Linked DNA regions of Homo sapiens. The protein of the gene in region 2 purifies or fractionates together with the protein of the main gene of each other region. This does not show direct contact. Each region holds a gene or a part of one and is shown on either strand. Other genes may lie near its edges.

Region 1 (3,653 bases), on a different chromosome or scaffold from region 2:
ATAGACTCAGTGCTGTGTGTGCACTGTCTCCTTAAATCCTCACAACCACCCTGTGGGACAGGTAGCATGATTTACCCTGAGTAAAGGAAGGTGAGGCTTACAAGGTCACAAACAGAATGCTTGCTGATTGAGCTGAGTTCTTAGCCACACCTTCATGCCAGTGCTCTTATCAGAACAGCTCCTTTTCTTTTTTTTCTCCTTTTCTTTTTCTTTCTGAGACAGGGTCTTGCTCTGTTGCCCAGGCTGGAGTGCAGTGGTGTGATCTCAGCTTACGAAGCCTCAATCTCCCAGGCTGAAGCAATCCTCCTACCTCAGCCTCCCGAGTAGCTGAGACTACAGGCACACACCACCACTCCCAGCTTATTTTTGTAGAGGTGGGGTTTCACCATGTTGCCCAGGCTGGTCTTGAACTCCTGGGCTTGAGATCCCCTGCCTCAGCCTCCCAAAATACTGGGATTACAGGTGTGAGCCACTGCACCTGGCCTCACTTTTCTTAAGCATGTATTTGAGAATGGTGGAACACTTTGCCCTGCTTTATTCACGTGTGGTTGACAGAAATTCATTGACCTCTTCTGTACCCTGGGCACTTTGCTAGGCACTGGGGATAGACTCAGGAACAACGTGGTCCCATCGCACAACCATCATGCAGTTTGACAGGATGGGGACAGCTTGGCAAGGAGACCCCAGAGGGAGTGGGGCAGGTGGCTGGCCACCCCTGACAGGCTGCCTCCACTCTGGTATGTCCTTGGTCCTCTGCTCCTGTGAGTGCTGTAGAGGGGAGGGGTGGGGAGTGGGGTCCACAAGGGCCAGTTGCCACTGACCATTTGCTCACATACATATATATATATATATATATATATATATATATATATATATATATATATATATATATATATATACATACACATACAAACCCTGAAGGAAGTATTGGCCAGCTCTGTGATAACTAATGCACTTACGAGTCCCTTTATAAGGTCACTAAGGGAGTAGTTTTTCTTTTGCATGGTTGTCCTCATGGGGGCACAAGAGAAGAATTAACATTTCTCTAATATGAGTCAGATTATTCTATTATCCAAAAGAGAGAGTCTAGGAAGTAATTTATTAATTATTATTGAGATGGGGTCTCACTCTGTCACCCAGGCTGGGGTGCAGTGGCAAGATCTTAGCTCACTGCAGCCTCCATCTCCCAGGCTCAAGTTATCCTCCTACTTCAGCCTCCTGAGTAGCTGGGACTACAGGTGCACACTACTGTGCCAGGCTAATTTTTTTTGTATTTTTTTAGTAGAGACAGTGTTTCGCCATGTTCCCCAGGCTGGCGGAACTTCTGAGCTCAGGAGATCCACCCATCTTGGCCTCCCAAAGTGCTGGGATTACAGGCGTGAGCCACCACGCCCAGCCGTTCATTAATTTAAATGAAAAAGAACACATGGAAGGTTCAGAATGATGAAAGTTTTCTGTTTATTTGGGCTCTTGGTTTCTATTCCCCCTGGATCTGCCTATTCTCAGCCTCATATAGCTCACTTGCTGTACGAAGCCTCGCTTCTGAGGTTGTCTCTTTTCCCTACGTTGGCTGAGGCTGCAGAGAAAAACACCTCATGCACTGTTTTGTGCTGGCATTAGTTACCTGAAAACTTTCAAATAACCCTGATCTGCCTGGATGAGATAAACTGAGAGCAAACACTGACTGCCAAGCCCTGGCTACTCAGAGAGGATAGACAGCAGCCACAGCACCCAGGAGCTTATTAGAGATGCAGGCCCAGGGTTCACACTCTGCATTCCAGCAAGACCCCAGGTGATTCAGTGTGTACACTAGAGCTTAAGAAGCGCTGGGCTAGGCCAGTCCCAGCCACCTGTACTCTTCCCAAGTGTGGAGAGAAGCACCCCAGGATGCCGTTTGTTCTTGTCCATTCCCAGTTGCCCGAGGCACATGCCTGTCAGTGGGAGCAAAGGCTCCCTGCTCCCCCGACACCCACCAGCGCTCACTGACTAGCTCATCTGCTTTCCTAAAACTCAAATATACATTTACATAAGTATCTGGGTCGAATTCAACATTTGTCAAAAACAGGCTTATTAGGTTATGGCTGAAACTCAAAGAAGGATACATATTTAAGGTATACAATTTGATACGTTTTGACACGTGTCTACCAGTGAACCCACAGCCACAGTCATGATGATAAACATCTGTCACCCACTGACGTTCTCCATTTCATTCTCTGTGTCCCATCGAATTCTCCCTGCCATCCCTAGGCAATGACTATCTGCATTCTGTCACTATAGGCAAGCTTGCGTTTTCTAGAATTGTACATACACAAATGGAATCATACACTACGACCTCTTTTTTGTTATTTATTTTGAGATTTATCATGAGTACTTTGTGTACTGTATCAATAATATCTTATTGCTGAGTAATATTCCATTGTATGAATATAACATAGTTTATATACTTGTGGATTTTTCAGAAACGGGGGGTTGTTTCTACTGTCTCACAGTTGCACAGGCCAGAAAGTTCTGGGCCGGCTTTTTCTGGTCTAAGATGTGATTTCAGGCAGTGGTGGAGTTGGCATCAGACAGCCGCTCTCCACAGCCCAGTTCTCAGGTGCCCCGACCATGCATCCCAGATGAGCCTTCCCGAAAAGGGACGCCTGCTCTCCCAAAGGCTGCAGGCTAAAAGGACACACTGCTGCCTTTGGGAGCTACCATAGGTAGGAATCTCTGTCCCTTCCTGAGAGCAGACGAAGGCACGGGTCCATGGGGTGACCTGCCCGTGGCCGGCAGCTGCACAAGCCCGTTGCCTTCCTATGCTCTTCCTCCTGTTTCTTGCAGAGTTCTTGCCCAGTATTGCCAGCATCAGTGTCAGCCCTCTGACGGAAAGGAAGTCCACTGCTGGTGCCCTGTGAGAGCGCAAAGCCTCCCTGGGCCCAGCCTGAGTCTTTTCTCAGGGAATGGGGAGAGCAGCAGGTTTGGGGTGGTGGGGATGCAGGTTTGTATCAGTGGTGCATCCTTGGATGACAGAGTGATTCAGGGTGAGGAATCAGTTTCTTACATGCTCCCAAGGTTGACCTCGGCCTCTGTGTGCTACACAGACCCTTGTTTAGTGTCATAAACCACAGCACCCACCTAACACTCTGGGAAATGATTTTTGTTTTGCAGGCTCTCCTAGCAGGCATGCGGAACCGTGAGAACAGCTCGCCCTGCCAAGGCAATGGTGAGCAGGCCGGCAGGGGCAGGAGCCTGGGCAATGTGTGGCCTGGAGAGGAGGAGCCCTGCAACGATGCCACCACCCCTTCCTACAAGAAGCCTCTGTATGGCATCTCGCACAAGATCATGGAGAAGAAGAATCCTCCCTCGGGGGACCTGCTAAACGTGTACGAGCTCTTTGAGAAGGCAAACGCCAGCAACAGCCCCTCGTCACTGCGGCTCCTGAATGAGCCACAGAAGCGGGACTGTGGCAGCACCGGGGCAGGCACTGACAACGACCCCAACATCTACTTCCTGATCCAGAAGATGTTCTACATGCTGAACACCCTCACGTCCAACATGTCCCAGCTGCACAGCAAGGTGGACCTGCTCTCCCTTGAGGTGAGCCGCATCAAGAAGCAGGTGAGCCCCACTGAGATGGTGGCCAAATTCCAGCCGCCCCCTGAGTACCAGCT
Region 2 (3,653 bases):
CCATCAAGAAAACCTATTTCTATTTAATTGTGCTAAGTGCTAAGGTTTTACTCTTTAGGTTTTCCATTTTTTTCCACTTGTGCATTGTTCCTATGCAGGCCCCTCTGGATATGTGTTGTGAAGTCATATTTGTCCGTGCAAAGATGCTGGCATATGCTGCACTGGAAAGGTCCACTGTCACCATGGCAACTCATATGCAAAGCATACATCACTTCATCCAGAAAGACAATGCCACAGTGCACACATTTTGTTGAAAGTTCATCTTGAGTACTTCTATCAACTTTCTCTGTTTTTACTACATTCAAGGGACCTTCATTTTTTACATTTGGTGGTGCCTTCGTTTTCTCCTTGGAGGCACCGTTTGCAGTTGGCCCAGGTCTGGAATGCTTGATCGCCAAATCTAGAGGAATGTCATTGTCTGATCCAACAGCTGAAAAATGAGGAGGCAGATTGAAGGTGGGATAAGGCACATAGTTTTGGCAAGGATTTGGTAGGCCAGGCACGTGACTCAAGTAGTGCGGATTCCCAGGAACGGAGAGCTTATATTTACTCCAGAACCGCAGCCAATCAGCTTCACTCTGGAAGTCATTATGTACAAAGGGAAGTCCAAAAAGTGGGTACTGGTACTTTTCAATAGGGCTGCCTGGTGGTGAATAATTTGGGTGTTTCGCAGGTCTCATGTACTTTTCTATAGGACTGCCTCTCTCAGAACTTCCTTTCCCTTCAGATACGGATGAACTATTTCCTGGATCTCCAGTACTTTCCTGAGGACTTTTTATCTGAATGTGCAAAGGTTGCATCCTTTTGTGAATATCCAGAGTTTGGCTGACCAGGACTGGCTGCTGAGCAGAATGGCTTTTAGTCAATGAACCCTGGGCTTCGTATTTACTTAGGCTGGGGAGTGGAATTTCTCTCTGGTGACTTTCAGTTAGATGATCTTCTGACCTCCTCTCTAACGGGCTTCCATTGACTTGCTCCTCATTGCTGCCCCTCTGCTGTTTGTTGAGCTGCTCAGCCTGAAGTGCCTCTGGGTTAAGGCGCTTTCTTGTTCTCCTCCTAATAATCTGCTCACCGTTGTTTTGTTTAATGATGTTTAAAGGCCTGGGAGTCTGCAGAGAACACATACAATACATAAAAGGAAAACATTAAAAAATACATTAAAATGCATTAAAAATTCCTCACAAATATAAACCATGCTTAAGTTCAAAGCAGGGATAGGCTTTCTGCTGTAGATTTACTAAATCTCCTCCTTTTGCCCTAAGCAGGATCAGAGGAAGTAACCAAAGTGCACTATTTTAGCCTAATTAAATCATGTCCATCTTTGCAGGGGGGACTGAAAACTTTAATCTACTTGAAAATAACCTTTCCAGATGCAACAGATTTTGAGATTGCATCATTTAGTGATGAAACGGTGTAGAAAGTCACTTGAAGAGATGTGATTTTTCTGAAATTTTTTTTCAATTTTTGAGTTGTGCACTAAAATGCCAGCATATAAGAGTAACACAGGAGATACATATTGTTAACAGTGGAAAAATTACACATTGCTACAGACAGAATAAGTTTATATGTTGAAGCCCTAAACCACAGTGTGACTGTGTCTGGAGACAGGGTCCTTAGTAGGAAATTAAAGTTAAATGAGGTTGTTAAGGGTGGGGCCCTAATCCAATGGGGCTGTGGCCTTATGAGAAGAGGAAGAGAAAGAGATCTCTCTCCACTATGTGAGGGCACAGATAGAAGGTGGCTTAGTAAGGAAGACAGCCCTCCTCAGAATCCAACTATGCTGGAACCTGATCTCAGATTTCTAGCCTTCAGAATGTGAAAACATAAATGTCGGCTGTTTAAAGCTGCTCAGTTTATGGTATTTTGTTATGGAAACCTAAGCAACAAATACATGCGTGCTTCTAAATAATTGCAAATGTGGATATAAAATATTAATATCAGAGCATAAATAATCAAAGATAAACTGACAGAATTGTGAGGAAAGATATCAGGTCATCAAAGCAATAGAGAGGGATTTTTTTTTTCTTCTCATTTCTACTTCTCTCTCATTAATAATATTTTATATTTGTGATCTAAGATTTTACTTGTTAATAGTGAAGCATTAGTTTTGTGTTGAAAATCTAAATTCATGTGTAGCTTTGGTTTAAATATCTGATCTGTCATTCTACTCTTTACTTAAAGTAAGTGCTAACTTTCATTCAGCTTAAGTATTTTGTTTAGCTTAAACGTTACATGATTGGTATTTATGGACATGTTCAACAGGTATTTATATAATATGACTTAAATCCATGGATAAGACTATAATAAAAACTTTACTTGCAGTTGGAGCTCTTTGATGTATAAAATCAAAGGAATCAGTTTGATAAATTAATGCGTATTTATAGGTTAAAAATTTAGGGTAATCTTTAAATGGGCTAAAGTCTGATTTTTCTAAAAGATTACTGAAATCAGAAAATAATTTCCACATAAAACATGACTATAAATATAATTTATAAATTTAACTTTATAAATTATACATTATGTGTATATAATGTATAATTTTATAAATTATAAAATTTTAAATATAAACATAAATATTCATAAACATGTTATAATAATATAAATATAATATAAATTTAAAAAAACATAAATATAAGTGTAATTTGTAAATTATTCCTAGAAGTGATACACTTGAATGAAAGGGAGTACCTCTTGTATCTTAAATAAGTACAACTATAAATCCTTTTTGGAACATTTCTGTTGTTACAAACATACTTCCAAGTGAAGAAAGATAACACAGTTGTTATTGACAATTCATTGTTAGTTTAAGAAAGAAAATGCAACATAGCTTAGTTATGCCATGTGCATTTCTTTTGCTCAGAATATCCAGGTTTACAAAGAGTTCATATTAGCATTATAAACATATGCATTATTTAATCTATACACTGTAAAGAACCTGAAATTTGCATAAATTCCTTTTTTAAACTGTCATAACTTTTGTGTCAGTTTTTGACACAAAATGTGAACATAACCTTTATGTATTTCAATGTATGGTTTTTTAAAAAACCTGAAAACTGAAAACATCTTACCTCTGGAGAGATGAATATTAAAATAATTTTTAGAAAATAGTTTAGTTTATATCTCAGTGGTTAAGTTCCCATAATCTGGCAGAGCAGTATTTTAATTAATTTTTGCCCTATGATTGGCCAGACTTCAATTAAAATCATTAATGTCAGTTCCCATTAAATAGAAACTTATTGCTATGCTTAAATGGTGAAGGTTAAAAAAAATAAGTTGGTATGTGGTGGGGGGTGGAATCTTTCTACTTGCTACATGCTAATAACTAAGGTTTTTACAGTTTACTGCCAATTAGTAGTGTTAGCAGCATGCATTTTTTAAAGAGTGCTTCTAATGGTCCATATATGAGAACATTTTGTCTAAAAGTGTATTCCCTGTAGCCATAATGTATTCACTGGCTTGTGCTAAGAGCTATGGTAAAACGCCAAACGAAATGAAAAAGGCACAGGGAAATAAATTTTTGTTTACTAAATGGGGGATGCCTATTTTAAAGTCAGCTCTTGTCAGCAGATGAACTTGCTAAACTAAAAAAAAAAATCCTTCAGTAAGTCAAATCCATATTCAGATGGAGGATTTGTGAGTTTTAATTTTATTAC

What was found.
Region 1: the proteins of TRPS1 (region 2) and BEND3 purify together in Homo sapiens (affinity purification with mass spectrometry; one large-scale study listed by BioGRID and IntAct). This does not show direct contact.

The regions. Positions count from the first base shown.
Region 1 is NC_000006.12:107,070,448-107,074,100, reverse strand, and holds part of BEND3 (BEN domain-containing protein 3), read left to right. Parts: intron 1-3,150; coding exon 3,151-3,653. UniProt on the Homo sapiens protein: Transcriptional repressor which associates with the NoRC (nucleolar remodeling complex) complex and plays a key role in repressing rDNA transcription.
Region 2 is NC_000008.11:115,413,976-115,417,628, forward strand, and holds part of TRPS1 (zinc finger transcription factor Trps1), read right to left. Parts: intron 1,110-3,653; coding exon 48-1,109; 3' UTR 1-47. UniProt on the Homo sapiens protein: Transcriptional repressor. Binds specifically to GATA sequences and represses expression of GATA-regulated genes at selected sites and stages in vertebrate development. Regulates chondrocyte proliferation and differentiation.